2 separate regions of the Homo sapiens genome follow, and region 2 is linked to region 1. The links come from fine-mapping of genetic effects on gene expression. A gene starts in region 1. The other region holds a variant in brackets. All regions are shown on one strand. Distances are from middle to middle.

What was found.
Region 2: its variant is fine-mapped to the expression of ZNF322 in whole blood (INTERVAL, PIP 0.99).

The regions. Positions count from the first base shown.
Region 1 is chr6:26,652,588-26,668,712 of GRCh38, reverse strand. It overlaps ZNF322 (zinc finger protein 322), which reads left to right and starts at 8,967. Exons shown (of 4, transcript NM_024639.5): 1 at 8,967-9,272; 2 at 10,067-10,155. RefSeq lists enhancers at 8,557-8,756, 8,777-8,836, 8,536-9,036, 9,067-9,256, 9,267-9,316 and 1 more.
Region 2 is chr6:26,610,129-26,626,253 of GRCh38, reverse strand. No RefSeq gene overlaps it. Among named protein-coding and RNA genes, the nearest start is that of ABT1, 21 kb to the right of the region's middle. The variant A/G (reference allele first, on the strand shown) is at 7,256.

The sequences.
Region 1 (16,125 bases):
CTGGCTCAGCTGGTCTCATGAACCCCTGATCCAGGAACTGACTCAGTGCAAGAAGACAGCTTTGACCCTTTATGATTTCATCCCTTACCCAACAAATTAGCATTCCCCAGTCCCTACCCCCTGTCCACCAAACTATCCTTGAAAAACTCTGGCCTCCAAATGCTCAGGGAGGTGGATTTGAGCATTATCTTTCATCCTTCCACTTGGCTGGCCCTGCAATTATTAAACTCTTTCTTTGCTGCAAAACCTGCTGTTCTCACTGCATTGGCTTTTCTGCGCAGCAGACAAGAAGAACCTGTCAAGTGATTACAGAATTGCTGGTAAGAAAAGTGTATCTTCAACTAGATACTGCCACACTCTTTTCCAAATTTACTGCATTCACTTGCACTCGCAGTAGCTGTATATTAGTGTTTTTCTTGCTCTACTTAGTTGAAGTCACTGTAATGTTTCTCATTGTGATTACTATGCATGTTCTCAAACCATTTCCCTGTTTATTTCATTTTAATCTATTGATTGTATTTAAATGTACACTCTGTATTGTAGCCTCTGAAGCTATCTCAAAAACACAGCTTTTTTTTTTTTTTTTTTTTTGTGGTGCCACTGTTTACAAACCTTCAAGCACTTCCTAATGTTGTCTTAAAAGTCAAAGCTTCTTAGACTTTTATGTTTGGTCTGATATGGTTTGGCTCTGTCCCCACCCAAATCTCATCTTGAACTGTAGTTCCGACAACCCCCACATGTCTCAGGAGGGACCCTGTGGGAGGTAATTTAATCATGGGGGTCAGTTACCCTCATGCTGTTCTCATGATAATGAGTTCTCACTAAATCTGATGGTTTTATAAGGGGCTTTTTCTCCTTTTGCTTGGCACTTCTCCTTGCTGCCACCATGTGAAGAAGGGCATGGTTGCTTCCCCTTCTGCCATGATTCTAACTTTCCTGAGGCCTCCCTAGCCATCCTGAACTGTGAGTCAATTAAACCTCTTTCCTTTATAAGTTACCCAGTCTCAGATATGTCTTTATTAACAGCATGAGAATAGACTTACACAGGTCCAATGCTTAACTCTCAAATTTTATATCCCTCTCCTCCTACATTTGAACTCATACTAAACTATTTTTAACTTCCCCCTAAAAATGAAATGTGTATGTCTCAGTTTAATCACAGTCCTGTGAATTAATGGCTCCAATCCTCTCTTCCCTTAACTTTCACAAAGATAACTACTACATATTCTTCAAAAACCTATTTATGACATCCATTGTCTATAAAGCTCTCCCCAGCCTGAAGCCTATGTTAGATTTCCTTACTGTGAGGTCCATGCAACTGTCCATAGTGCTTTCCAGGCTGTATTGCCATGTTTCCATATGGAAATTCCTTCCTGGCATTTCTTGGGAAATTTATAATTTTCCAAATCGTGACAAAAATCAGTCAAGAAAGAAGGAAAATGGGGAAAGTATAATTAAAATTCTGCATAGGCAGAATAATGCCCCCCTCCAAGATATTCGTATTTTAATCCTCAGAACCTGTGAATCTATTACTTTGCATGGGAACAATGACTTTGCAAATGTGATTAAAGTTAGGAGTTTGAGCTAGAGAGATTAGCCTGGATTATCCAGGTGAGCCTAATTTAATTACATGAATCCTTAAAAGTAAACAACCTCTCTCTGCTGTTTCAGAGAGCAATTAAATGACAGAGGATTAGAACGAAGTGACATGAGAAGGAACTGATCTTTCATTGCTTGTTTTGAAGATGAAAGAAGAGGGTCATAAGCCAAGGAATGTAGGAAGCCTAGAAGCCAGAAAGAGCAAGGAAACAGATTCTCCAGAAAGGGACACACACTGCCAACATAGTGAAACCCAGTTTAAACTTCTGATCTACAGAACTTTAAGATAATACATTTATTAATATATTTTTAATACACTAAGTTGTGGTAACTTGTTACAGCAACAACAAAAAACTAATTCACATTCCTCTTAGGGCAGGGGTCCCCAAACCCCAGGGCGCAGACTAGCAACAATGTGTGACCTGCCATAGCAGGTGATGAGTGGCAGGCAACCGAGCATTACCACCGGAGCTCCGCCTCCTGTCAGATCAGATTTTCATAGCAACACGAACCCTATTATGAACTGCTCATGCAAGGGATCTAGGTGGTGTGCTTCTTATGAAAACCTAATGCCTGATGATCTGAGGTGGAACAGTTTCATCCCAAAACCACCTTGCCCCACCAGTCTGTGGAATAATTGTCTTGCATGAAACCAGTCCCTGGCCCCCACAAGATTGGGGACTGCTGTTTTAGGGTATACAGGGTCATATCTGTCTTGAGAACTGCTGCTTCCCTCTTCCAAAGCGATTTGGGGGCATGATTTCCCACACACATAAAGCCCTTTGGTGAGAGTCTGCTACTCACCAAATGAATAAATTAAAACTGCCCCAATTGTGTTCAAGAATGTCTACCTAGATTTTTGGTTAGCTTGAGGTTGAGGTACTTTATGATTGTTCTCCAAAAAGAAGAATCACTGGTATCTTACAAAACAATTCCATTGAACCAGAAGTTATTTCTTGACTATGTTTTACTTGCTTCTTATTTTTATTTTCTACTTTTTTCCTTCACTTGCAAAAGTTTCTCCCATTTGTTTTGAGGGCTTCTATTATCTTACACACATCAGCAAACAGTTGCTGATTGATAAACTGACAATTAATATGCTTTCTGTTAACTTAAAGATATTGTTCTTCAGCTGCAGAAGAGGAGGGACTACAAGGGTCTATACAAGGTTTTACTTGCTCATCTGAGCTGATAATGAATCCTTTTTAAACTACCTTCTTTTCTAAATTGAAACCTGAGTCTGCATGACTCACTAGGCAGGATTTACAGAAAATGTATTAACTAGGATACAGAGCCAATGAATATAAAAGGTACAGCACAATGAGACTTACAAATGTAACTCAAACACTCAGGTGCTGTCACCTCTACTGTGGGCAATCTCAGAAAGATTCACTCTATTCAGGGAATATGCTTTAGGTTCACCTAAACTTCCTTACAGTTTACCTTCCTCAGGTTGTGTTAGTACCCTTGAGGCTAGTCCTCCAAGTATATCTGCTTGAGGATGGGCTGAATGAAAGGAATCTTGGGAAACAGAAATAGCAAAAGAGAAATCTGAATGTAAATGAAAAACAAAGATATAATAAAATCAAGAGACAGAGACAAAGACAAAAAAAAAGACTCAAAAAGAAAAAAGTTTCAAATTTTTTTGCACTTGTTTGGCATCTACGGGCTCAGAAAACTTTGGATCCAAAAAGAAACAGAGAGCATGGTTCCCCTTAGAGCAGCAGTTCCCAACCATTTTGGCACCAGGGACTAGTTTCGTGGAAGACAAATTTTCCACAGATGGTGGAGGGGGATGGTTTTAGGATAATTAAAGCATATTACATTTATTGTGCACTTTACTTCTATTATTATTACATTGTAGTATATAATTAAATAATTATAGAACTCCCCATAATGTAGGATCAGTGGGAGCTCTAAGCTTGTCTTTGTGCAACTAGACTAGACTCACTGGGCAGGATTTACATAAAATGTCTCATTAACTTAGATACAGAGTCTATGAGTATAAAAGGTACAGCACAGTGAGGCTTACAAATGTAATTCAAATACTCATCTGGGAGTAATGGGAGACAGTGACAGATCATCAGACATTAGCTTCCCATGAGGAGCATGCAATCTAGATGTCTCTCATCTGCAATTCACAATAAGGTTCGCGGTCCTATGAGAATCTAATGCCACTGCTGATCTGACAGGAGGTGGACCTCAAGCAGTAAGGCGGGTGATGGGGAGCAGCTGTAAATACAGATGGAAGCTTCACTCACTTGCCCATCACTCACCTCCTACTGTACAGCCCAGTTCTGAAGAAGCAACTAACTTGTATGTGGCCCAGGGGTTGGGGACCCCTGCTTTAAAGAATTTTTTTCTTTTTTTGAGACAGGGTCTCACTCTGTCACCCAGGCTGAAGTGTAGTGGCACAATCTCAGCTCACTGCAGCCTCAACTTCCCAGAGGACTCCAGGGATCCTCCCATCTCAACCTCCTGAGTTGGTGGGACCACAAGTGTGCACCACTACATTCGACTAATTTTTGTATTTTAGGTGAAGATGGGGTTTCACCACATTACCTAGGCTGCTCTTGAGTTGATCTCGAACTCCTGAGCTCAAGCAATCCACCACCTTGGCTTCCCAAAGTGCTGGGATTACAGGTGTGAACCACCATGCCAGCCCTAGAACTAACATTTTAATGGGTATCTATTACATGCCGAGTCACTATGATGATACCTTTGCATTAATTACTACATTTCATTCTTACCTCAGCTCAGGGAGGGAGGTATTGTCTTATGAACTTGTAACAGTCAAGATGGAAAGACAAAGTAGAGCACTGTAAAACAGATAAGCTGGAGAGCTGGACGGAAAACACAGAAAAGGCAGCCACGCATCATTCAGGAAAAGGAATAATGGTGAATAGCCAGATAGATTCAATGTATGAGAGAAAAGGTAAATTAAGAAGAGATGGGCTGGATGCAGTGGCTCACGCCTGTAATCCCAGCACTTTGAGAGGCCGAGGCGGGCAGATCACCTGAGGTCGGGTGTTCGAGACCAGCCTGGTCAACGTGGTGAAACCCTGTCGCTACTAAAAATACAAAAATTAGCCAGGTGTGATGGCGCATGCCTGTGGTCCCAGCTACTTGGGAGGCTGAGGCAGGAGAACCGCTCAAACTCGGGAGGTGGAGGTTGCAGTGAGCTGAGGTTGTGCCACTGCACTCCAGCCTGGGCGACACAGCAAGAGTCCATCTCAAAAAAAAAGCCAGGCACAGTGGCTCACGCCTGTAATCCCAGCACTTTGGGAGGTCAAGGCAGGTGGATCTCTTGAGGTCAAGAGTTCCAGACCAGCCTGGCCAACATGGTGAAACCCCAACTCAACTAAAATATAAAAATTAGCTGGGCTTGGTAGCGCATGCCTGTAATCCCAGCTGCTTAGGAGGCTGAGGCAGGAGAACTGCTTGAATGAGGGAGGTGGAGGTTGCAGTGAGCCGAGATCATGCTACTGCACTCCAGCCTGAGCGACAGAGCGAGACTCCGTCTCAAAAAGAAAAAAAAACAAAGAAAAAAAGAAGAGATGACATGGATGAAAGACCTTTTCTGTACTAAGTTAAAATCTAGTTGGAGTAACAGGTACGGAACAATCACCAGAACTCTCAGTAACAAGCTGCAGCAGATGAAGAAAAATTGAGGCCACTAACGTTGATTTTGGGTCTGACTCCTGTAAATCTCCATTAACAGTGCATGCATCAGGATCCCAAAAATCGCAAATATGCCTGCCGTAGAGACACAGAAGAGGACTTTCTCTTTTTCAGAGTTCCTTCGTGGAAACTTTCAGCTTAGATTTCGGCAGGAAAAATTCTAACATAGCCAAAACCTGCCATAGTATTCTTTAGCCTTCCTCTGACCCCAGTTGTTTCCTTAAGTACCTTGGGAATTTCCACTGAAATCTTGATTATGTCCTGTTCTTTAGATCATCTGTCTGTCCTTTATTGCATGGTCTAAGGTATTCCTTTTTAGTGTGTAAATCACTTTGGAAAATGATTTAGAAAAATAAAAAGACTGCATGGTGTCTAAGAAGAATTTAAAGGGTTTTCAAATGGAATTCCAATGTATCTACACCTTCCAAAAAAAACTCTCTCCTCAGTCTCAAATCCATTGATCACTTTCCTCTACAACTCATCAACTATCCATACTTTATCCAACCCCAACTCATACCCTGCATGCCTCTGACTTGCTTGCCTAATCATGTTCATCCAACCAACATTAATTGATCATATAAGTAACCTATTTGACGTCACTTTCTACTCAAATTTACCTTTCCACCTCAATATGATTCATACACTAAACCTATGTTGTCCCCTGATCCTGCTCCTTTTCCCTGATCTCCAATCTCTTATCCTTCTACTTGACATTAGTCCAAACTTATATTTCTTATTTCCCAAATCGCCATGTCCTTATTCTTACCAAATATTTGGCCGAACTAAAGATATAACTCAATCTTTCTCTCCCATAATCAGATCTTATCACATTAGTTCAGTCACTCACATGATCTAACCCTCTTAGGTGATGTCTCTTTATTCTCTCAGAAGGAGAAATCCTAGGAAACTGCAATTCCCTGCCTCATCTTATCACAAATGCTGCCCCTTATAAACGAACTGCTTCCACAGAATATGTTTCCATACAAAGGCTACTTATATGATTGTCAGATGCAATACAGGATGCCCAGTTACATTTAAATATCGGATAAACAATGAACCATTTTTTTAGTGTATGTCCCATGGGAAAAATATATTCCCTAAAAACTTTTTTAAAATCTATTGTTTATCTAAAATTCAAATGTAACTGGGTTTCCTGTACTTTTTTCTTTCTAAATTTGGCAACCCTAGATACATACACTCTCCATAGGACCAATCTACTTTCCAGTGGATAATCTCAGAAAGAAGTTTCAGACCTACTGGCTTCTAGGAAACAAGATACTGAAATGCACCTTTCCAGGGGCTGCAGTTCACAATTTCCCACTTGCTCAACTCTAGTCACAATAGTCTTTCCATACCCTTCATCTCTATCCTCAAAGCCAGATCCTCTTCAGAACCACAAGAAGTATGTTGCCCAAGCTTGGTCTGGAACTCCTGGGCTCAAGTGATCCCCCCACCTATGCCTACCAAGCAGCTGGGGCTACAGGCATGTGCCACAGTGTCTGGTCAAAAACCTCTTAACTGAAACTCTCCTCCCTTGGTTGTCGTAGTCCACTTTTGTTTTCCTCATAATTTCCTGGCTGCTCCTTCTTACTCTTTATCCTCATACTTAAAACTAAAAATAATCTTTCTAAAGATTTTAAATGTGGGGATAATTGCCCTATTTCCACAGCTTGAAATTCCAAGAATTGCTTCCCATTTCATATAAGATAAATTCCACTAACTGAAATCACATTCAAATGTCTCTGTACTTATTTTCCATCTTCCATTTCAGGCTCATCTTCAGCCAACTCCTTACTTCTATTCCTTCGAGTCTCACCTTATGTCTCATCTCCTACAGAGTCTTTTCTGACTCTTTCTCAAAGTTCTTACAAAGTGCTTCACCTCTATGCCCCCAGATGACCTTATACAACTTCTACCTCTACCACACCACCTAAAACCCCTGCCGTCTCCATACCAGACTGTGAGCCATTAAAGGAGTGGTATTGAGTCTCACTGGCCTTTAATTCCTAACACACAGCATAGTGTCCTGTTTTTTTGGTTTTTGTTTCTTTTTGACATGGAGTTTCACTTTTGTTGCCCGGGCTGGAGTGCCCTTGGCTCACTGCAACCTTCACCTCCCAGGTTCAAGCGATTCTCCTGTCTCAGCCTCCCAAGTAGCTGGGATTACAGGCATGCGCCACCACGCCTGGCTAATTTTGTATTTTTAGTAGAGACAGGGTTTCACCATGTTGGTCAGGCTGGTCTCAAACTCGCGACCTCAGGTGATCCACCCGCCTCAGCCTTCCAAAGTGCTGGCATTACAGGCGTGAGCCACCGTGCCCGGCCTATGGTGTCCTGTTAATTGGAGGTGCTCAATAAATGTTTAACTGAATAAAACAATTAATAAAGAGTACTTTGGGCCAATGTATCCTGAAAGAAAAGGTTGAACAGTTCAATTCTACACATATTCAGACCTTGTTATATGCAGTGCAGAGATCAGAATCCAACTTGCTTAATTTTTATTCCAATAATTTTACACAATACACTCACCACTATTGAGGTAGCCATAAGTATAGTGACTGCAAGCACAGAATCTGGCATCAGACTGTTCACATTACAGCTTCATCAGTAATATGTGATCCTGGGCAAGCTACTTAATCTCTCTGTGCACCAGTTTCCTCCTAAAAGAATACATATCTCACACGATTTTTGTTACAACTGAATGAGACAATAGTGTAAAGTTATTAGAACAGTGTTTGATACATGCTACACACTCAAAATGTTATTATTCAAAATATTAAGACAACCCTGAGTGGAATATTTTGACCTTGAAAGTTTCATTAAAAATAAACATGAAAGTAGAATAAGCTGTAGACCCTCTGCGGAAGAATTCCACTAGTAGGAACATGATTAGTTAATACTGAATACGTGTCTCAGAGACTGCGCTCCCCAATTACTAAACCTCAGCAACTGGCTCACAATCCAAGTCCTTGGCCAGGCTGCCCAGGGTTTAGTTTTCCATATTCCTACTACTCATCTTTTCCCTTTGATAGCTGAGGACATTTAAAAACTGTTTTTTGTTGGTTTGTTTTTTTTAATTTAACAATTGAGCTGGGAGAATACCCAGTGTTCAACCTAAAGAACTGAGTTCTGTTCCAGCCCCACCACTAGGTGATTTACTCTTAGCTGATTCCAAATCAGAAACATAATCAGCAAGGACTGGGGAACCTCCCACAGTACTTTCTCTCGCTGCTGTTTTCTCCACCCACACAAGTCCACCACTTTTAAAAGCATTTCTTCCATCTCGCTGGCCACATCTTCGTGGATGACAGCGCTGCCACTGTGCTTCAGAATCCTCTATCTCTCCCAGATCTTTCCTGGTGTTTCTCTCAGGGTCAGTGGCATCTAATCTTTGTGACTCTACTCCTGGTTTGAGTCCTCGGTTAACAGCCTTGGGGAAACTGTAACATAAACTGCAACGCTGTTGGTGCCGTTTCTTCTTAGACAGGGTGGCAGCGATCGCCTCCCCCCGCAGCCGGCCTTCCACTGCGCCAGCAAGACCCCCTCCCACCAAAACGCCGAGGGCTCCCAGAGCGCAGGCGCCCCGGGCCCCGCCCCTTTCCGAAGACTCGGCTCCTATTGGCCCAGGGGCCGGGGTTGGAACGCCCTAGTGGCCGGAGAGGGGTGATCATGTGACTTGCGGGGGTGGGGCTGCGCCGGCCTCTTCCCAGCCAGCTTGAAAGGGTTTGCGTAGCCGGCCTTGTGGGCCCTTGAAGCGCTCTGTTAAAGCGCTCTGTGGGCGGCCTGGCCCCAACTCCTCTAGTCTAGGCGCACGAAGGGAGTTGCTCCTAGGTCTTGTCCGTGCCGGGTTCGCTTTTCTTTCCTTCCCGAAGCCTGGCCCTTAGATCTACTATCGCAGAGTCTGCGGCCGCCAGGAAGCCCAGATTCGAGTGTCCGGAGAGTAACCGGAAGTGCTGTCCCCAGGCCTAGGGGCGGCGCCGGCGGCTGCCAGGGTAAGCGCGGCCTGCGGGGCCCAGGGGTGGGATGGGTGCGCGGTGGGACCCAAGACCCACGGCCACAGTCGAGTGGGAGCAGCCCCTGTTCCTGGACACTGAGCATGGTCTGGTCTCCGCTGACGGCGGACGGAGGACTGAAAGATGGTCAATGAAAAGTTGAAAGAAGAGAACCTTAGTACGGTAGTTCCTAGAGATAGTAAACACTGCAAGGCACTTTTCAAAGCAATATAATCTTTCATATATATCGAGGAAAAAAAGGACCTTGAATGGATTTTTCGCTTCATCTTCAGTGCAGAAATTAGTTATGTTGCAGTTGAATCTATCTGCAGAAAAATCTGGTTTGTTTAATCTTCCTATAACCATTTCTTTTTGGAAAATGGAATTACAGATAACTTTATATTATATACACTTATCACATGCACTTTGGGGTTTGTAGTGGTAGACGAATGGGTCTTTGATCTTAGGAGTTGAGATAATACAAACAAAAACAATTAGCAGAAGGAGAAAAAACAAACGAAAAACGAGGCTTAGGGCTTTGTTATGAAGTTACAGTTAGTAATAGAAAGATTCTTGACATTTTGTCTAGAGCTGGTCGGAACTGATGGCTACCAGTGGCAGGTACTTCCTGCAGGAGAAACAGTGTAAGCAAAGATGGGAAGAGGTAAGCTATGGTTGAAGGATGCTCACTAGAATGGAGAGGAAATGGGACCAGTTTTCTAGGCCAGCTCTAGAAAAATTATGAATTATAAATTTCACAAGGTCATCGTCTACATTATTGATTTTTCCTCTAGGAGAGGCAAGAATTGAGTGTTGTGAATAGTTCTGAACTAGAGACCTTTTGAAACCAAAAGGAAGATGGTCTTGAGTCTTTCTTGTTACGGTAAGTGGTATACCAGGCTCTGTTTCTGTATAAATGTGGATGGGGGTGTGGGGTGGGGCAGGGTGAAAGACAGGAAAGTATGGGAGAAGATATATGGAAAAAGAGAATGCCCCTTTCTTAGCTCCTAAGATAGCAGAGTGATAAAACTGAGCCCTATCCTACCAACTTAAGGCTATTTTCTACTCCTTTTCAACATGCATGCATATTCACATTAGGCTTGCAGTAATTGCTTTTTGATTGATTTGTAGCACAAAGAGGGTAGTATGCCTAATGCTTAGGCAGGCTCTGGAGTCAGAAGATAGGTATTGAAATCCTGGCTCTGCTGCTTACTATTTGTAAGTTGTTGGGTGATTATCTAACTGCCCTAAGCATCAGGTTTTCCATCTATAAGATCCAAACACTGGTATTAATACCTATTTCATAGGGTCCTTGGGAGGACTAAATGAGATAATCCATGTAATCAATGAAAAATAAATGAGAAATTTCCAAGTCTAAGGCCTATAAACACCATCTAATTTTTAAATAATGCTTTACTAACTTTGTCTCTTGGTCCCATATACCCTTTAAGGATAACCATGAACTCTCAAGTTGTATGAATTAGCCTGTCTGCTTGGACTTTTGTCGTGTTCCAGTTTATTCCTTTCACTTCGACCCTAGGCAGGAAAGAGTACTAGTCTCTTCCTAGGATGGGGCAAGAGAAGCATCCTGAAGGAGGGTACCCTGGAGCTAAGACTTGAAAGATGTATTTGGGCTTGCTAGATGAACCAGCCAGGGCTACTGGTCTAGTCTGTTATACAGCTACTGGGGGTCCAAGGATAATGATTGCCTTTTTGTTCTGGTATTTGTTCACACTTTTCATTTATTCAACAAATGTACTCTAGGTAGTAGGGATATTACAGTAAGCAAAAGACTAAGTCCTAACCCTAATAGAAGTTATATTTTAGTAAAAAGACAAACGAATAAATATAAAATGTATACCATAAAGTTGAATGGTGATAAGTGCTGTGGAGAGAAATAAAATGTGATAAAGCAACACAGGCTATTTTAGATAAGGTAGTCAGGGTATGCTGCTTTTTGAGGAAGTGATCTTCAGGCAGAGACTTGAGTCCAATAAAGGAGTAAGCTGCATGGGGAAGAGCATTCTAGGCAGAAGGAACAAGTGCAAAAGCTCGGAGATGGCCTGTGAGGCTGAAGATAACGCAGAGGTGCCACATTATGTAGAGCAGTAAAAACTTTGGATTTTATTCTGAGTGTGCTAGAAAACAGTATTTTAAATTAGGGAAGTGTCGTGATTTTTTTTTTTTTTTGAGATGGAGTCTTCGCTCTGTCATCCAGGCTGGAGTGCAGTGGCACAATCTCAGCTCACTGCAAGCTCTGCCTCCCAGGTTCACACCATTCTTCTGCCTCAGCCTTCCAAGTAGCTGGGACTACAGGCGCCCGCCACCACACCTGGCTAATTTTTTTGTACTTTTTAGCAGAGACGGGGTTTCACCGTGTTAGCCAGGATGGTCTCAATCTCCTGACCTTGTGATCCGCCAGCCTCGGCTTCCCGAAGTGCTCGGATTACAGGCATGAGCCACCACGCCCGGCCTTATGATCTGTTTTGAGGTTTGACACCCAGACTTATTTTTTAGGTGTTGACATCTAAAAAAAGCTTGGATATGAATAGGAAAATTATTTCCTTATTTATTCAGTTTTTTTTTTCTTCTTCTTAATGCCCCACACTTCATTGGTTGTTTAGGGCAAATAAGACATCTTGGACTGATAACTTTAGGGAATAATGTAAATGATTTGCCTGGCTGTGACAAAACTAAGAATCCTTTATTTTCACTCTATTCTCCTTTTGAGCTTAACACTAATACAAATTTTAAAAGACAAAACCTTTTATGAACCCCCCATCTTATAACAGCTATTTGTCTGTATCCCGGCATATCTTTACTTAGTTGTGATTCTGAGTTGGAATTCTTCCTTTTCCTTCTAATATTTCTCCATAATTTTTTTCTAGTTTTTGCATAATCTTCATATTAATCATTAACTGGCCAAATTGTTTTATTAGTTATTGCAAGTGGGTTTTGAACAAGGCTTTGCACAAGAATCAGGCATAGAAAATGGGCTTAATACATGTTAGTGGTTTTGTGCATGTGAAGGTAGAATTAAGAAAATAATAGAATCTACCATTTATTAAGCATCTACTGAGACCTAGGCATTGAGCTTAGTACCGGCAGTGTCTTTGTTCTCATAGCAACTCTGTGAGGAAAAAAGAGAATATTGAAGTTGAAGGAAATTAAGTTACTAACCCAAGTTCTCACAGCTACAAAGGAGGAGAGTGGGAATTTGAACCAAAATCTGCATCCAGAGCTTAAACTGTCAGTATTAACCACCAAAATAAACCAATCTTTAGCCACCATGTTTTTTGAAAACCAAAATAAAATACCTTTTAATTTTGAATAAGTACAGATATACAAAAAATTGCAAAATGGTACAAAGAACTCCCATATACCCTTCACTCATATGCTCTAAATGTTAACATTTTACCATGTTTGCTTTATGATTTTGCCTCTGTCTATTAAACAAACGTTTTAGTCTGTTTTGGGCTGCTATAACAGAATACCATAGACTGAGTAATTTATAATGAACAGAAATTTATTGGCTCATGATTCTGGAGATTCGAAAGTCCAAGACGGGGGCTGGCATCTAGTGAGAGCCTTCTTGCTGTGTCATTTCATGGCAAAAGGGCAAAGAGAGGGTGAGAGCAAGCAAGAGTGCTCAGAAAGGGACCAAACTCATCTTTTTGTGAGGAACCGACTCCTGAAATAATGGCATTAGTCTATGAGGGTGGTGCCCCTGTTACCTACATACCTCCCATTAGGATCTGTTTCCCGACATCATTGAATTGGGGATGAAGTTTCCAATGCATTAACTTTGGAGGACACATTCAAAGCATAGCAATACACATATACATATGTATAGATTTTTCCCTGAGCCATTTGAGAATAAATTGTAGACATGTCTCTTCTCAAACAGAGAATCAAGCCATGGAATCCTGCTCTCCTATGCATGTACAGTACTGCTAGCTACATGCCATCCCTAGGAGAACTGAGAAAACAGTCATTCGAATACATTTTCTTTGGGGACTTCTTTTCTAGAACCCTAATTGAGAAAGCCTGTCCTAAATATTCAGTTGTATATTTACTAAAAACAAGGATATTCTCTAGAAATTATCATTACCATTATCGGAGTCAGGAAATTAACATTCATACAATAAGTACTATTATCTAATCTCCAGACCTTATTCAAACTTAGCCAATTGCTCCACTCATGTTGTTTAAGACAAAAAGAAAAAAATGTTTTCTGTGGACCAAGATCTAATTCAGCATCAGTCATTTAATTTAATTATAATGTTGTCCCTATTGTGAACATATCTTCAGACTTTGTCTTTCATACCTTTGACATTTTTTGAATATTTAGGCCATTTATTTGGTAGTTTCCCTCAGTTTGGGTTTTTCTGATGTTCCCTCGTGATCAGATTCAGTTTAGACATTTTTGGCAAGATACCGCAGAAGTGATGTTATGTTTTTCTCTTTGCATCATATTAGGAGGCTCATGATGTTTTATCTCATTACTGGTCATGTTCACTTTAGTTGAGGATACCATTAGGTTAAGGTGGTGTCTTCCAGGTTTCTATACTGTGAAGTTACTCTTTTTATATTTATAATTATTAAATATCTAGTGGGGAGATATTTTCAGATTATGTAAATATCTTGATTCTCATAAAATTTTTCATCCAGTAGATTTTTGCACAGTACTCTTCTTTTGATTGAACATCGTGAAATTTTTAATTCCATCATTTCTTCTATATTTGTTTGCTTTTCTAATGCAAAAAAACTTTCCCTTCTATACACTTTTTTTTAATGAGTACAAATTCATGGATTCTTATTGTGTGACTAATTTATTACTGTTATTACTTATTTCAATGTTCTGCTTGTTCCAGATTTGTACAGTGGCAGTCCTTCCATCCTGAATTGTGGGTCCTTCTGGCATATTGCACCACTTTTTGAGCACTTCCTTACTTTCTGACACATCAGGATGGTCCAGGCTTATCTTATACTTTCCAAACCGTGGAAACAGCCATTTCTCCAAAGAGTCTTGATTCTTTTCAATGTAGAATGGTATTTAGAAACCCATGTCTGAATGCTTGGTATACTCATTACTACTAGGATTTTATTGTTTCCATGACTTCTCAGCAAACATTACTAGGAAAAAAAAATAAACATACGTAATTTCACACATATATACGTTTCTTTATTCTCTATATAAACCTTAAAATCTTGACTTATACTGGTACTTCTAATTCCAGTTAAACACTACAGAGTTCATTCTAGCCTTTCTCTTTTCTGTTTGTAGCCTTCTTCATTGACAATGGGGAATCTAGGTGACATTATCCATAGTATATTTACTTATTTATTCGGTCCTAGGATACACATTAAGTAGTGTACCCTTATCCCAACAGGGGAGAAAATCTGTACTGATTCGAGTTATTTTTATCTTTAGATTGAATATACATAGTCCCAATATTGTGTTAGAGTTATTTTTTTTTCTCTTCTGTGTAGTTGTTATTTATTTGAAACACAGGCGCATTTGTTTTTATGCTTTTCTCTTCCATCTTGACTATTTAGTTCATTAGTTCATTCATGTATTGAATATGTAAAATGTAACATAATTCTAAAAGTAAAAATATGTGTGCTGTGTATTCATATTCTCAGAGAAATGTGACTCTTCTCCTCCACCCAATTCTGTTTTCCTGTGCCATCAATTCCATTTTTATCTGCCTTGTAATGATAACCAATCTCATTAGTTTCTTGTTTTTTGGGGCAAGTGGAGAACTACATATATAATTTTTTATTTTTACTTTCTTACATAAAATACAACATACTTTTTTACACTTTGCTTTTTTAAATTTATAATTTATCCTGGAAATCACTCCACATCAGTTGATAAAGATTTTCCTCATTCTCTTTTACAGTTGCATAGTACTCCATTATGTGTGGATGTATGTACCATAGTTTATTCACCATTTTCTTACATACAGATATTTATTTTAAATATTTTCCCGTTACAAACATTACTATGAGTAATTTTATGCTTTATATTTTCATGTTATTGGAGGTGAATCTTCAGAGTCCATTTCTAGAAATGGGATTGCTGAGTCAAAAGTAAATGTATATCTAGTTTTGTTACATATTGCCACATTCCCCTCCGGACGAGATTGTACCCATATGCATTCCCTCCAGCAACGTATGAGTTTGTTTGTTTCCTTACAGTGTTGACCGCAAAATGCATTGTCATGCCTTTTAATGTATACTGATTTAATTGGTGATACTGGTATTTCATGTACTTTTAAAAAATTATTTCTTTTTTTATAGACTTACCAGTTTGCATTCCCTCCAGCAACATATGAGTGTGTCTGTTTCCTTACAGTGTCGACAACAAAATGCATTGTCATACCTTTTAATATATGCAGATTTAATTGGTGAGAACTGGTATTTCATGTACATTTAAAAAATTATTTCATTTTTTATAGACTTTATTTTTTAGAGAACTGTTAGGTTCATAGCAAAACTGAGCAAAAAATACAGAGAGTACCCATATGTCCCCTACCACTCTCTTTACCCTGACACATGCACATACCACACACATAGCACACACAGCATCCCCCGCTGTTAATCTCTTCAACAGAGTGATACATTTCTTACAATCAGTGAACTTAAGTTGATACATCATTGCCACCCAAACTCCATAGGTTACATTAGGGTTCACTCTTTATGTTGTACATTCTATGGGGTATCTACAATTTTTTTTTTTTTTTTGAGACGGAGTTTCACTCTTGTTGCCCAGGCTGGAGTGCAATGGTGCGATCTCAGCTCACTGCAACCTCTGCCTCCCAGGTTCAAGTGATTCTCCTTCTTCAGC
Region 2 (16,125 bases), 42 kb after region 1:
TATCCAAAATAATGATAGGAGAGTTACTGGAAGAGAATGAAATCTAGACACAGACCTTACAACTTTCACAAAATTTAACTCAAAATGGATTATAGGCCTAATCTGTAAAACACAAAACTATAAAACTTCTACAAGATGATGTAGGAGAAAATCTAGGGACACTTGATTTGATGATTTTTTTTTTTTTTTAGGAGTTTTGCTCTTGTTGCCCAGGCTGGAGTGCAATGGTGCCACCTCTGCTCACTGCACCCTCTGCCTCCTGGGTTCAAGCAATTCTCCTGCCTCAGCCTTCTGAGTAGCTGGGATTACAGGCATGCGCCACCATGCCCAGCTAATTTTGTGTTTTTAGTAGAGATGGGATTTCACCATGTTGGTCAGGCTGGTCTCGAACTCCTGACTTCAGGTTGATCCACCTGCCTCAGCCTCCCAAAGTGCTGGGATTAGAGGTGTGAGCCACCACGCCCGGGCAATGGTGATTTTTTTTAGACACGACACCAAAAGTACAATCCATGAAAGACATAACTGGTAAGCTGAACTTCACTAAAATTGAAAACTTCTCTGTGAAAGATCGTGTTAAAAGAATGAAAAGACAAGCCACATATTGAGAGAAAATGCTGGCAAACCATGTATCAATAAAGAACTTGTATTCAAAATATACAAAGAAGGCTTTAAAAATTCACTAAGAGGGGCCGGGCGCGGTGGCTCACGCCTGTAATCCCAGCACTTTGGGAGGCCGAGGCGGGTGGATCATTAGGTCAGGAGATCGAGACCATCCTGGCTAACAAGGTGAAACCCCGTCTCTACTAAAAATACAAAAAATTAGCCGGGCGCGGTGGCGGGCGCCTGTAGTCCCAGCTACTCGGGAGGCTGAGGCAGGAGAATGGCGTGAACCCGGGAAGCGGAGCTTGCAGTGAGCCGAGATTGCGCTACTGCAGTCCGCAGTCCGGCCTGGGCAACAGAGCGAGACTCCTCTCAAAAAAAAAAAAAAAAAAAAAAAAAAATTCACTAAGACAACAACCCAATTTTTAAAATGGCAAAAGATCTAAACAGACACCACCAAAAAAGATATACAGATGACAAATTACCATATGAAAAGATACCCAACATTGTATGCCATTAGGGAACTGAAAATTAAACCAACAATGAAATTGCATTACACACTATTAGAATGTCAAAAATCCAAAACACTGACACCACCAAATGCTGGCCAAGATATGCAACAGTAGAAATTCTCATTCATTGCTGATAGGAAAAAGCCATATGATACAGCCACTTTGGAAGACATTTTTGCAGTTTCTTTTAAAGCTAAACATAATCTTAACATATGATGCAGCCATCCTATTCCTTAATATTTACCCAAATGAGTTAAAAACATATGTCCACACAATAACCTGCACACAGATGTTTATAGCAGCTTTATTTATAATTGCCAAAACTTGGAAGTAACCAAGAAGTCCTTCACTACGCAAATGGATAAACAAACTGTGGTACATCTATACAATGGAATAGTATTCAACAAATAAAAAGGAATGAGCTATCAATCCACAAAAAAGACATGGAGGAACCTTAAAAGCATTCTTCTAAGTGAATGAAGCCAATCTTAAGGGGCTACATACTATATACTTTCAACTATATGACATTCTGAAAAGGATAAAACTATTAGAAGACAGTAAAAAGATCAATGTTCTCCAGAATGGGGGTGAGTTGGGGGAGGGACAAATGGATAGAGCACTGGGAATTTTTAGGTCAGTGAAACTATTTTTATGATACTGTAGTGGTAGATATATTACATTATACATTTGTTAAAACCCCTATAATGTACAACACAAAGACTGAACCCTAATGTGAACTATGGGCTTTAGTTAAATAATAATATATCAATCTTGGCTCATCAGTTGTAATAAATGTATCACACAAATGTAATATATTAATAGAAGAAACTGTGGGTGGTGTGGGGGCATATAGAATCTCTCTGTACTTTCTGCTCAAGTTTTCTATAAACCTAAAAGTACTTCAAAGAAATAAAGTCTATTCGCCAGGAGTGGTGGCTCACACCTGTAATCCCAGCACTTTGGGAGGCTGAGGCGGGCAGATCACCTGAGTTTGGGAGTTCGAGACCAACCTGACCAACATGGAGAAACCCCGTCTCTACTAAAAATACAAAATTAGCTGGGCATGGTGGCACATGCCTGTGATCCCAGCTACTGGGGAGGCTGAGGCAGGATAATCACTTGAACCCGGGAGGCGGAGGTTTGTGGTGAGCTGAGATTGCACCATTGCACTCCAGCCTGGTCAACAAGAGCGAAATGTGGTCTCAAAAAAAAAAAAAAAAAAAAAAGGAAAAAATAAAGTCTATTAATTAACATTTTTAAATTTTATTAAAAGATGAAGTCAAAAAATATAATATTTTAATGGTTGCTGAAACAGTTGTGTCCTTCTTAAAATAAAAATACTGGTTTTCAGATATAAAGACTGACACAATAACCGTCAACAAATTGATTGCAAAAAAGATTTTGTCTCTGGCCTTAAATACCTTCATCATTAAGTGGTATTCATATTATACTCTATGAGAAAAATTAAAGGCTCTGAAGATGTTATGCCTTTCCTATCTATTTCATCTTTACATATCCACTATTCATCTTTATAATACCCTTAATCTAGTAACACTTTCCCTTATCTCATTTCTCTTTTTCTTTCTCTTTCTTTCTTTCTTTTTTCTTTCTTTCTTTCTTTCTTTCTTTCTTTTCTTTCTTTCTTTCTTTCTCTTTCTTTCTTTCTCTCTCTCTCTTTCTTTCCTTGTTTCTTTTTTTTTTTTTTTTTAACAAAGTCCCTGTCTTTTGCCCAGACTGGAGTGCAGTGGTGTGAACATGGCTCACTGTAGCCTCTGCCTCCTGGGTTCAAGTGATCCTCAGCCTCCTGAGTAGGTGGGCCTACAGGCATGCGCCACCACACGCAGCTCATTTTTTTTTTAAATTTATTTGTAGAGATGGGGTTTCGCCATGTTGCCCAGACTGGTCTCGAACTCCTAGGCTCAAGCCATCCACCTGCCTCAGCCTCCCAAAGTGCTGGGATTATAGACATGAGCCACTGCTCCAGGCCCACACAATATTTTAACTTCTGTTTGTGAACTACCCATACCCCTTATAGTTCTCTTGGAAACTCCTTTGGATAACCCTGATTTAATTTTGTTTGTTCAAGGTTCATACCTGAAAATAAAAACTAAAACTATCAATCAAGCTAAGCCAAAACTGACATATTCACCATTGGTATTTGAACCTCTTCTAGAAGCTAAATCAGCAAACAGCTAAATCAATGTCTTCAACTGGAGGTGAAGACAGCTAGTACAGGCCAAACCCTATTTTTCTAAAAAAATTAACTTCCCATCTCTTCCTTACTGATTTCTGCAGGTTCCTCTGGGGTGCATTCTGGTTTACCACAGGAAGCTTAATAAATCTAATTTTGTTTATCTGTAAGTGTGCTCCCTGCTGGCCTTTGGTTGGTGGGCTTTTGCATTAAGTGTAATATTCTATAAGTAAAATTATTAAACTTGTGAAAAAAGCAGAAGAAAATCTTTGAGATCTAGTGCTAAAAATTAAGAGTTCTTAGACTTGACACCAAAATTACAATCCATAAAAGTAAAAATTGGTCAATTTGCCAGACCTCTTGGTGTAATGATTAGCACTCTGGACTTTGAATCCAGGATCCACTGGGACCTGATCATCTTCATTCCTCAAAACTGTGAAAGACGTCAAAACTAAAAATATATGTATGAGAAACTGGCATAGCCAAGAGGAGCCTAAGGAGATATGACAACTAAATGTGGTACCTTGGATTGGATCTTGGAACATAAAAAGGACATTAGGTAAAAACTAAGGAAATATGAATGCTACATCTATTAGTTAATAATGTGATAATAATGTAATAATTAGTTCATCAATTGTAACAAATAATTATACTGCTATAATATGTTAATAATAGAAGAAATTACAAGAAGAAGAAATAAAAGGCATCCAGATTGGAAAGGAAAAGGTAAAACCATCTCTATTCACAGATAACAGAATCCTCTATGAAGAAAATCTCAAAGAATCTACAAAAGGCTACTTGAGCTACTAAACTAATTTAGCAAAATTTCAGTTTTCAAGATCAACACACACCAATCAGTTGTGTTAATATACACCAACAGTGAATAATCAGAAAGGGGAAATTAACAACCAAGTCCATTTATAATAACATCTAAAATAATTAACTGCTTAGGAATAAATCTAACCAAGAAGCTGAAGGACATGTATACTGAAAACTACAAAACATTGCTGAAAAAAATTTACAAAAAATAAATGGAAAGACATCCCACATTCATGGATAGGAATACTTAATATTCCACTGCTAACACTACCCAAACTGATCTACAGATTTAAAGAAATCTCTATTAAAAATCCAACAGCCCTTTTCACCTAAATGGAAAAGCAGATTCTCAAGTGCTTATGGAATTGCAAGGAGCCATTAACAGCCAAACCAATCTTGAAAAATAAGAATAAAATTAAAGGATTCAAACTTCCTGACCTGTCTGAAACTTACTATGACACTCCAGTAATCAAAACTGTATAGTAGTAGCATATGAAGATATAGGTCCATGGAATAGAATAGTGTCCAGAAATAAATCCTCAGATATATGACTAACTCATTTTTGATAGGGTGGCAAGAGAATTCAATGGGGAAAGGAGAGCCTTTTCAAGAAATGGTGCTAGAGACCCACATATTGTGAACAAAAGTTCTCTGAAAAGAAATTTACAGGAAAGTGACTTTTGTCCAGTGAACAGTTTGCAAATGGGGAGATGCAGCAGCCTTTAAAAACAAAGGTGTGTTCCAGAGGACAAAGAGAGGGTTTTATAGCAAACGTTCCCGCCAAGGTTCCCAATTAGTCCCTTTATGCAAATTAAAGTTTGAAATTTGCTTTAGTTCCCATGGGTTGATGCAGCTGAGTTCTGATTCATCAATACAGCTGAGCCCTGATTGGGTGGTACAGGTGAGCTCTGATTGGTTGGCTCAGATCAGCTCTGAAAGTTCCTAAGTTGAACAGAGATAGCGTTTTCAAGGAATCTCAGAGTACCGGTGTGACCTCTAATCAATAAAAGGCCACTTGGCTGTATTTTAAATCTAGGCCCAATTAGCCACTTAAGGTCCATCTTAAAGATTGGCTCTTTCAGGTTCACATTTGTTCACAATGTGAAAGATTCAAGTTAGACCCTTACTTTATATCATACACAAAAATTAAACTCAAGAGCTAAAACTATAAAACTTTTAGAAAAAGAATTGGGGGAAATCTTTATGACATTGGATTTGACAACGATTTCATAAATATGACAGACACCAAAAGTCCAGGCAGCAAAATAAATAAATAAATTGGACTTCATCAAAATTAATAACTTGTGTATCACAGTACACTATCATAGAAAGTAAAAGACAACCTACAGAATGGTAGAAGATATTTGCAAATCATATCTCTGATAAGAGATTAATATCCAAAATGTGTAAAGAACTCCTACAACTCAGTAGCAAAAACAACTAATTTTAAAATGGGCAGTGGACTTGAATAAACATTCCACCAAAGAAATGTTAGGCTAGTTCTAGTATCTAATATCTAAGAAGTCTTTGCCTAATGTCAGCTCACAAAATTCTTCTCATGCTTTCTTCTAAAAGTTTTAATAGCTAATTTAGATTTTACATTTAGGTCTATGATTCATATTAAGTGAATTTTTATATACAGCATGAAGTTTTGGTGAAGGCTTGTTATTTTTACATACGGATGCTGAATTGTTTCAACAGCGCTTGTTAAAAATACTTTATGTGGGGTGCAGTGGTTCATGCCTGTGATCCCAACACTTTGGGAGACAAAGGCAGGAGGCTGCTTTGAGCTCAGGAGTTTGAAACTAGCCTGGGCAACATAATGAGACCCCATCTTTACAAAAAAATGAAAATTAGCCCGGCATGGTGGTGCACACCTGTAAGTCCCAGCTACTTGGGAGGCTGAGGTAGGAGGATCACTTGAGACCAGGATATGGAGGCTGCAGTGAGCCATGATCATGCCACTGCACTCCAGGCTGAATGACAGAATGTGACCCTGTCTCAAAAAAACAAACAACAACAACAACAAAATACTTTATTTTTTCTCCGTTGAATTCCTTTGCACCTTTATCAAAAATCAATTGCCCACACTCACGTAACAGTGTGTGTTCAAAAAGGCCTTTTCAAGTTTCACTGAAGATGCTACATTCAGAGTTTCATCCCTGAACTGTTTGTGATCTGTACTGTTTTCCAGTGACATCTGTTTACCCACTGCTACTTCTTTAACTGTAAACGGCCTGTGATTCAGTTAGTATGTTAAAAAAAAAAAAGTAATCTTCAATAAAAATACATATCTGAATCAGGAATTATGGCTGTAGATTCGGCTAAAAAAGACAAAGCTGCTCATGAGCAAGTGTCTTCTGAATCTGTGTTTGACTTTGTAGTTCTTTGCTTGTTATCTTTTCTATGGCAAAAAGTTATACTTTATTATTTTTTGGTCCATTTTCTTTTTTAAAGAATAGAAAATTCCAGAACGTTTTTGTTGTTCTTTTTTGTGGCATTTCTCAAGAAACCTATCAAAGATCATGATTCCTTGAAAACCAGGAGAAATAAGGCCAGGTACATGCTCTCTGTTGTTCATCTTTGAACTGAGCATTAAATCTCTGCACAACGTGTATAATTTTGAAAGCATCCTTTTTTTTTTTTTTTTTTTTTTGAGACACGAGTTTTGCTCTGTCACCCAGGCTGGAGTGCAATGGCGTGATCTTGGCTCACTGCAACCTCTGCCTCCCAAGTTCAAGCGATCCTTCTGACTCAGTCTCCTGAGTAGCTGGGACTACAGGCGCACGCCACCACGCCTGGCTAATTTTTGTATTTTTAGTAGAGACGGGGGTGTCACCATATTGGTCAGGCTGGTCTCAAACTCCTGACCTCGTGATCCGCCCACCTCAGCCTCCCAAAGTGCTGGGATTACAGGCATGAGCCACTGCGCCCGGCTGAAAGCATCCTTTCCTATAATGTCAGTCTGTCAATTTTAAATATTTTCTTCATTCTATATTGACATGATTAGAACATTAATATGCAGACAGATTTTTTAAAGAAAATGAGGAGATGATGGAGTCCCTTGAGTTTTTGACACTAAAAGAATAAGTGAATTATTCTTAAATCTCTTAATATTTTTAGCTATGATGTT[A/G]TGATTAAAATTATTGATTTTGTATGAGTTCACAGTTGTTTTCTTATTCATTTCCATTATACATAGTAAATGGCCTTGCTCTAGATACCACACACATATTTTTGATAATATCATTCCAAACTCTTTCCTCTGTCTCTACTCCAAATAAAGTAGTATAATTTTCAAGGAAAAAAAATCAACTATGTATATTTGTATGTGTCTATTTCTGGACTCTCTGTTCTATTTCACTGGTTTGTGAGTCTATCTTTTCACTAATACCAAACTTTTTTTTTGGGTGGGGGGTGGAGGGGAATGGAATCTTGCTCCCTTGACCAGGCTGGAGTGCAGTGGCATGAACTTGGCTCACTGCAACTTCTGCCTCCCGGGTTGAAGCCATTCTCCTGCCTCAGCCTCCTGAGTAGCTGGGATTACAGGCATGTGCCACCACACCAGGCTAATTTTTGTATTTTTAGTAGATACCGGGTTTCACCATGTTGGTCAGGCTGGTCTCGAACTCCTGACCTCGTGATCCGCCCATCTTGGCCTCCCAAAGTTCTGGGATTACAGGCGTGAGCCACCGAGCCCAGCTGCCAAACTTTTAATGACTGTTTCTTTATAATAATTTTTATAATAGCTAGTTTGAGATCTCCAATTGTGTTCTTTTTCAAAATTGTTTTGGCCATTCTGATTCTTTGCCTTTCCATATGAATTTCAGAATCATCTTGTATACATATACAAACAAAATAATGATGGGTTTTAATTTAAATTGGGTTACATTCATAGATCAGATTGTGAGAACTAACATCTAAACTGTGTTTAGTCTTCCAATCTATGAACATGGTATATCCCTCCATTAATTTATCTGTTCTTTGATTTAGGTCTATAACACTTTGTAAATTTTAATATACAGACTCTGCACATGTTTATTAGATTTATATCTAAGTAATTTAATATTTTGGAGCTTCTGTACACAGTATGTTTTAAAATTTTAGTTTCCAATTATTCAATGATAGTATATATAGTATTGATTTTTTTATGATGAATTTGTATTCTGCAAACTCATTACTTATTGGTGCTAAGAATCTTTTATTTTTTATTTTTTTGAGATGGAGTTTCACTCATGTTGCCCAGGCTGGAGTGCAATGGTGCAATCTCAGCTCACTGCAGCCTCTGCCTCCCAGGTTCAAGCGATTCTCCTGCCACAGCATCCCGAGTAGCTGGGATTACAGGCATGCACCACCAAGCCCGGCTAATTTTGTATTTTTAGTAGAGACAGGGTTTCTCTATGTTGGTCAGGCTGGTCTTGAACTCCTGACCTCAGGTGATCAGCCTGCCTGGGCCTCCCAAAGTCCTGGGATTATAGGCATGAGCCACCATGCCCAGCCAGTGCTAAGAACTTTTTATAGATTTCCTTGGATTTTCTATGTAGACAGAAATGTCATCTGTGAATGGGAACATTTTTTATTGCTTCCTTTCCACTTTTTATGCCAATTTCTTGCCTTATTACACTGTCAAAAATATCAGTAAGACATTGAATAAGAGTGATGATAGTGGGCATCTTTAACTTGTACCTGAACTTCAGGAAAAGCATTCAGTCTTTTGCCATTAAATATGCTGTCTAATATACATAATTTGTAGATGTCATTTATTAGGTCAAAAATAGTTGCTAGGAACAGCAAACTCCTCCTAGTTTGCTGAAAGTTTTAATCATGAATGGTGGTTGATTTTTGTCAAATGCTTTTTCACATTCATTGATATGATAATGTGATTTTCTTTTTTAATCTGTTAATGTAGTAGAGAATATTGATTGATTTTCAAATATTCAAACAGCCTTGCACTTAAGGGATTAACCCCATTTACCAGTGGTGCGTTTTTAAATAGATTTATTTTTTAGAGAAGTTTTAGGTTTACAGCAAAATTGAGCAGAAAGTACAGAGAATTCCGACATACCTGCTACCTCCTCCACTATGCAGAACCTCCTCCACTATCAACATCCTGTACCAGAGTGGTACATTTGTTAAAATTGGTGAGCCTACACTGACACATCACTATCACTCAAAGTCTATAGTTTACATTAAAGTTCACTCTTGGTATTGTACATTCCATGGACTTTGACAAATGTATAATGACATGTATCCACCATAATAGTATCATATAGAACAGTTTTTCCCTAAAATCCTCTGTACTTTGTCTATTCATCCCTCCCTACTACCCTCCCTTACTCTTAACTCCTAGAAACCACTGGTTCTTACATTGTCTTCATATAGTTTTGCCTTTTCCAGAATGTCATATACATTATTTGGAATCATACAGGATGTAGCCTTTTCAAATTGGCCTTTTTCACTTAGTGGTATGCATTTAATGTTCATTTTGGGTGGGTGTAAATGGTATTGTGTTTTTAATTTCAAATTCAACTTGTTTTTTGTTGGTATATAGAAAACATTTCACTTTTGTATATTAACCTTATATCCTGCAACATTGCTATAATCACTTATTAGTTCCAAGAATTTTTTTCAGTTCTTTCAGATTTTCTACATAGACAATACTGTGAACAAAGACAGTTTTTATTTCTTCCTTTCCAATCTGTATACCTTATATTTTCTTTTCTTGTCTTATTGCATTAGCTAGAACTTCCAGTAAAATGCTGAAAAGGAGTGATGAGAGGGACATCCTTACCTTTTTCCTAATTGTATTTCTAAATATATATTGCCAGATTCAAATTCCTATTATTTTGCTGGGAATTTTTGTGTCTATATTTATGAAGGATAGTAGTAGTTTTTCTTTTCCTGTACTGTCTTTATTTGATCTTGATATCAGGATAATGTTGACTCTTCCAATGAACTGTTTCACATCTCAGCCTCCAAACTCTTGGTTTCCAATCCATTCTTCCAAGTTGCCAAAATGAACTCTTTTTTTCTTTGCCTTTAAAATTAAAATTATGGCTGGGCGTGGTGGCTCACACCTGTAATCCCAGCACTTTGGGAGGCCGAGGAGGGTGGATCACCTGAGGTTGGGAGTTCAAAACCAGCCTGACCAACATGGTGAAACCCTGTCTCTACTAAAAATACAAAATTAGCTAGGCATGGTGGCACATGCCTGTAATCCCAGCTACTCGGGAGGCTGAGGCAGGAGAATCGCTTGAACCCAGGAGGCAGAGGTTGTGGTGAGCCGAGATCGCGCCATTGCACTCCAGCCTGGGCAACAAAAACAAAACTCTGTCTCAAAAATAAATAAATAAATAAAATTATAATTATGTTCACTGTTTTGTTACTGGAAAGATATAATACAAGTAGAAAATTTGGAACAATATACCACTATAACATTGCCATTCCTCCCAATCCAGTCCCAAACCAGAGTTAATCACTTTATTACAGTTCAATCTATATCCTTTCAATTGTTCTTTTATGCCTTTGTAAACACATCTCTATCTATATATCAATAGCCATTTTAAAATATAAATAGAAGTATGATTTACATAATATACTGTGTATCAGGGACAAGATACAGAACACTCACACACACAGTCTGTCTTGTCTGTTTTCCCATCACATGACTTTATCTAAATTATCTTTATATTAATTAAACACTCCAATTTTTTTTTGGATATTTCCATTGTTTCCATTTTCCACTCTCCACTCTAATAAAGAAGCCCACTGTGAACACACCCCAGATCTGTGCTGAGGTCTTGGTGCCTTATCCAGACTTCCAGCACTGAGGTGTCTCCCTGCCACATCTCCATCAGGCCTGCACTGCTCGCCCCGGTGTTGATGTCCTGCTGCTAAATCCTTCCTCACCCCCTGCTGCTCCCTGGGGTCTGTGAGTTGGGAATATCCCAATTAGCTTTACTGATAACTCATTTTGTATCCAAAGGTTGAGGAGCCCTTGAAATAACAATTTTTTTATCGTTGGGCAGTATAAAGGTGGGTTTGATGTCCCGCGTAGGATGAGTTGGAGTTTGGAGAGGCTGGAGATGCAGATCCTATGGGAGATCAGTGCGAGAGCAAGGGCAAAAGCAGCTCCACATCTGACTCCTGAGAAGCACAGGACCAAGATCCCATGGTCTGTCTTCAGAAATCACCACCTCCCCAGTGAATTCTAAATATAATCTTGTCCTTTCCCGATAACTTCCCTCCCATCCTTGGTGCACAATCTGAAGTTGTCATAGGTGAGAGAGACGTGAAGGAAGAGGGACCCAGGAAGAATTTTCACTCAACGAAAAATTTCTAAAGACCTGTGGGGCAAAAACCCTGGAAACTTGAATTTTCCTGCGAGAGAGTTTGCCATTTGACCCTTTCCCCCCGGGATCGCCAGCGATGGGCAGTAAGAAGAAAAAGCCAGAGCCCCCAGAGACCGAAGAATGAAGGTGGCACCTTCCACACCACCTGCCTGCTGTGTCCGAGGCTCCCCGCGATCCTCAATCCCTGAGGTCTCAAGCTCCAAGAGGGGCGCCGCCGCAGGGACTCAGGGAATGAGAGGGGCCAAGGGCCTCTCCCCGCCCGTCCCCTCCTCTCCCGAGAGGCAGTTCCCTGGAAGGCCGCTACCACGCCGCTGTCTGGCGCTCACCGTCAGAATTTCTCGGGTAGTCTCGGAAAGGCCGCGCCGAGCATTTGACCTGGAGAGGGGGGCTCGGAATTCGGGAAAGGGAAGTAGCGCCGCCCGCAAAGACAGAGAAAGAGGAAGGGGAGGCGGTCAGCGCTCCTACGCTTCTTCCCGACCCCTCCCAGCAAATTCTCAGCCTGTGGCCTTCGACCCGCACCAGGGCCCGGTGTGGGTGGAAAGGTAAACCGACTCTCTTCAAGCTGAACCTTGAAGCCGGGATCAGGGAGCGCGAGCCCCCTGTACCCAAGCTCTGTCCGCCCCGAGGGACCACTGCCCCACAGTCCCCAGACAGCGCGGCGCTCCTGGGCTAGCGCGCTGCAATTCCCAAAGAGCCAATGTCTGTTATCCGCAGCTGCAGGAAGAGGGGCTAAAGCCCTGTCGCTGGGTCCTCAAACTAGAGAGTAAAACATCAGCATCGATTAAACACACCGTCCGGCGGCACGAAAACAAGTCAGGCAGTCTGGATCTTGGCACCACACCGGAAGGGTGAGGTCCCGCGGCGCTGCGCAGGTGAATGAGAAGGTTCTTGGGCTGGGAACCCGGCTACCGGGAAGCCCGCTGTTTGTTAAGGAACCTTCCCCGGCAACTTGCCTTTAGGGTCCGGACAGCGCGGAGGGAGAGTTCCCGTGTGCCCGGGAACCCAAATCTGAGACTTCCAGCAGTTAAGCAGGAGCGGGAGATGAGGCAGCCGGGTAGGCCTATCAGTCCTGATGCCCGGGCTCCTCTTTCGCAGGGTTTGTTTTCCTTTGGTGTCTCCCAAGCCCTCGCTAAGGCAAGTGATAAATGAGATGGCTGGACGAGAAACTGGTGGGGACGGGGGTGGCAGAGCTGGGGCTGGGGACGCTCTTTGGGGTTGTCGCTATACCTCAGTGGTCCCTAGTGCCCATGTGCTGGGCGCTGGCTGTCTAGAAGGGCTCCAGGGCCGCGGAAGACCCGTGCACATCATTCATCCCTGACGGTCACCTGTCACCAGAACACTGTGCACTTCGCGCGGGGTCTCATCGGCAGCCAATGAAAACTCCCTGGAGGCAGTATCCAGCTCGAAAACCCAGGTCCAGCCACATCACTCACCAAAGGTAGTTCTACATGGAGAAGCCTGATCCCTCACCGCCGCCTTCCTAGGGGGACCAGGAGCTTTCGGAGAAGCCCGCCAGCCGCTGGCTCTCTACGACCCTGCAGTGTTCAATACATTGATGTGTTTCGCCCCACTCCCTTCCACAGATTAGCCAGGAGGTCACCCTGCAGGAGCCTGGTGACCATCAAGATTGCTTCCCCTGACCTCATCCAAGTGAGCCAGTTTCCAGTACCAAAGCCGACTTTGAGCTAAGCACCCTTAAAGCTTCCAGACCCTTATGGCACAAAAAATCAAACCGAGGCCCTCAGAGAATGCAAAAAAATGAAAGTGGAAGACCCAATATTCCCTGAGCCAGGACAGGAAAACAAGTCTCCAGGAGACCAGATATTCACATTCAACTGTGATAGCCAATGGGATCCCTGTTTATTTGGTGCCCGAGTCCCTTGAAGCCAAACCTCCATTCCCAGAGCTCAGATGACCACTAGAATAAGTCTCATCATCCCTCCAAGAGCCCCTTGACCAGCATATTCCCAAGTGGTCCCCTCAGCTCCAACAGAAATGACATTGGCAGCTCCTACAGCTCTCCTGGAAACATTTCAAAGACAGGGAAGAGAGGAGGTCCCAGTTTGCAATTTCACATCCCTCCTGATGTCTAAAGTACTCATTATCCTCTTCCCCTAAAAAAGGCACAGAAGAGCTTGAACCCAGGAGGCTAAGGTTGCAGTGAGCTTAGATCATGCCACTGAACTCCAGCCTGGCGTCAGAGCAAGACTCCCTCTCAAAAACAAACAAAAAGGCACAGAAAAACATCTGTCCACACTTTGCTGTATAGGGATTAAACAATGAGGTTCAGGCTGCAGACACTCCCTCACAGAAGAAAACAAAGCAAAACTCAAGGAATACATCGCCCACATCTGTTAGTTCTGGGCCTCATGAAAGCAAAACTTTGCTACAGCCTTCTAAGCCATAGGGGGAGGGTATCCTGTCTTCAACTCCCCAACTTGGTTATGCAGTCACTGCAGAAAACTTGGACAAGAAAGCTGCACTCTGGTAGGTCAACGAAGTCATAAAGGAGCAGACTGAGGCCACCAATGACTATCCTGAGATTGTGCCTGCCACTCAGCCCATCCTTTCTGTCACCCTACCTGCTGCTGGGACTGCACCATTTCCAACTACCCCTCCATTTGGGAGCACTAATCCAAGCTGGAGAGCTTGAAAGTGATGCAGAATACCCCAGGCCCACTGGCCTTCCTATAGTCCACTGGAGGGATAACCTGTGTGGCTGCTTTGCCTCAGGAGACATCCAGCTTGCTGACCCCTTTGGTGTCCTCGAAGTCAGAGACACTTCCAGGCACCTCTTCAGACTTGAGGCCAACAGTCACTTACTCCTGGTTGACTCCTGCTTCTACCACATTACTCATCACTGACCCCACCAAGCCACCTCTGACCCCTCAGGCTGACAGGTCTGCCAAGTCCCCAACCATCCCTGCTCTAAACCAATTCCTGTAAGCATCCCAACCCTTAATTCTCCTACATATACAGATCCTTCTGGATCTTCTGATCCATCTATATTTAGGCTAGTATAGAAGCCCAATCTAAAAGAAAGAAAGAAGGCCACTTGGGTCCCACACAGTCACCTGACAATGAGGCCACTGGCTCAGCGTTTGATAGCACAGCCCCATGAGCCTTCCTTTTGGAGAAATGCCAATCCTAAGGCACTGGTGCTTTAGGATAGGTCTGTCTAGCTCAGTCAGGAGTTCCATTTCTGGAGCATTCATCAGTGAAGCAGGCCCTAGTAGGACCACTGGTGCCATCAGTCTTTTGGGGTATACTTGGTCCTGAACACCCAGGATCCTTTATTCAGGGCACATGATTTTCCTTCAAAGGAGACAGCACCACAGAGTAAGCCTGGGTTTCGAAACCTCTTCACTGCTGCCTCAGTCAGAGTGTCCTGCTTAGAGTGGGCCTGTTAAGCAGCAGAAGTGCCCCTAGGGAACCAATGCCCCCTGACTAGGGTTCAGTGGGAGAAGGACCTGTCAGAGCACCAGCACCTTCATTTTCCATCAGTTTGGGATATAAGACAAGAGCTCAGCCACAGCTGCAAGCCCAGAAGCAACAACCTTTGGGAAATTTCCACAACTTTTCTGCCCATGCTATTGACACTTCTCTTTTTATTTTATTTATTTTTTATTTTTATTTACTTTTTGTTTTTTGAGACAGCATCCCTCTGCCACCTAGGCTGGAGTGCAGTGCTGCGATCTCAGCTCACTGCAGCCTCTGCCTCCCAGGTTCAAGTGATTCTCCTGCCCCAACCTCCCAAGTAGCTGGGATTACAAGCGCCCTCCACCACACCCAGCTAATTTTTGTATTTTCAGTAGAGAAGGAATTTCACCATGTTTGCCAGGCTGGTCTCAAACTCCTGACCTCAAGTGATCCACCCAGCTCAGCTTCCCAAAGTGCTGGGATTACAGGCTTGAGCCACCGCGCCCGGCCGGCATTTCTCTTTTCAATATGTAAGCTCAGATAGGAGTCTTACCTTCCTGCTTTTCCCTGGGAATATGCTTGCCTGAAGAAAAGGGAAGATAGTCTTTCCTCACTTGCATCTTGGGGGTGGGAAATTGCATTTGCCTTTAATCTTTCCCTTCCTTGGTCTGGCTTTAAAGTGTGGTTTTCTTCCTCTGGCTTTTTTTGATGGAGTTTCGCCAGATTGGCCAGGCTGGTCTCAAACTCCTGGTCTCAAGTGATCCGCCCACCTTGGCCTCCCAAAGTGCAGGGATTACAAGTGTGAGCCACCAGGCCCGGCCCCCTCTGGCTTCGTAGGGAGCCTGTTTGTCCACATTTCACTAGTTGTTCATACACAGTCCTTGGAGGAGCTCTAAGAAAATCTTGAATCTAGCTTATCCTTGGGAAACATTGATCATCCCCTGAGAGACACTGTGGATGCTACTCCTGCTGAATGACTGCCTCCCACCAAGTCTGCACTGTCCCTTAGAAAGATAATACTCAGACTGGGCACGGTGGCTCACGCCTGTAATCCCAGCACTTTGGGAGGCTGAGGCAGGTGGATCACCTGAGGTCGGGAGTTTGAGACCAGCCTGACCAACAAGGAGAAACCCTGTCTCCACTAAAAATGCAAAACTAGCTGGGCGTGGTGGCACATGCCTGTAATCCCAGCCACCCAGGAGACTGAGGCAGGAAAATCACTTGAACCTGGGAT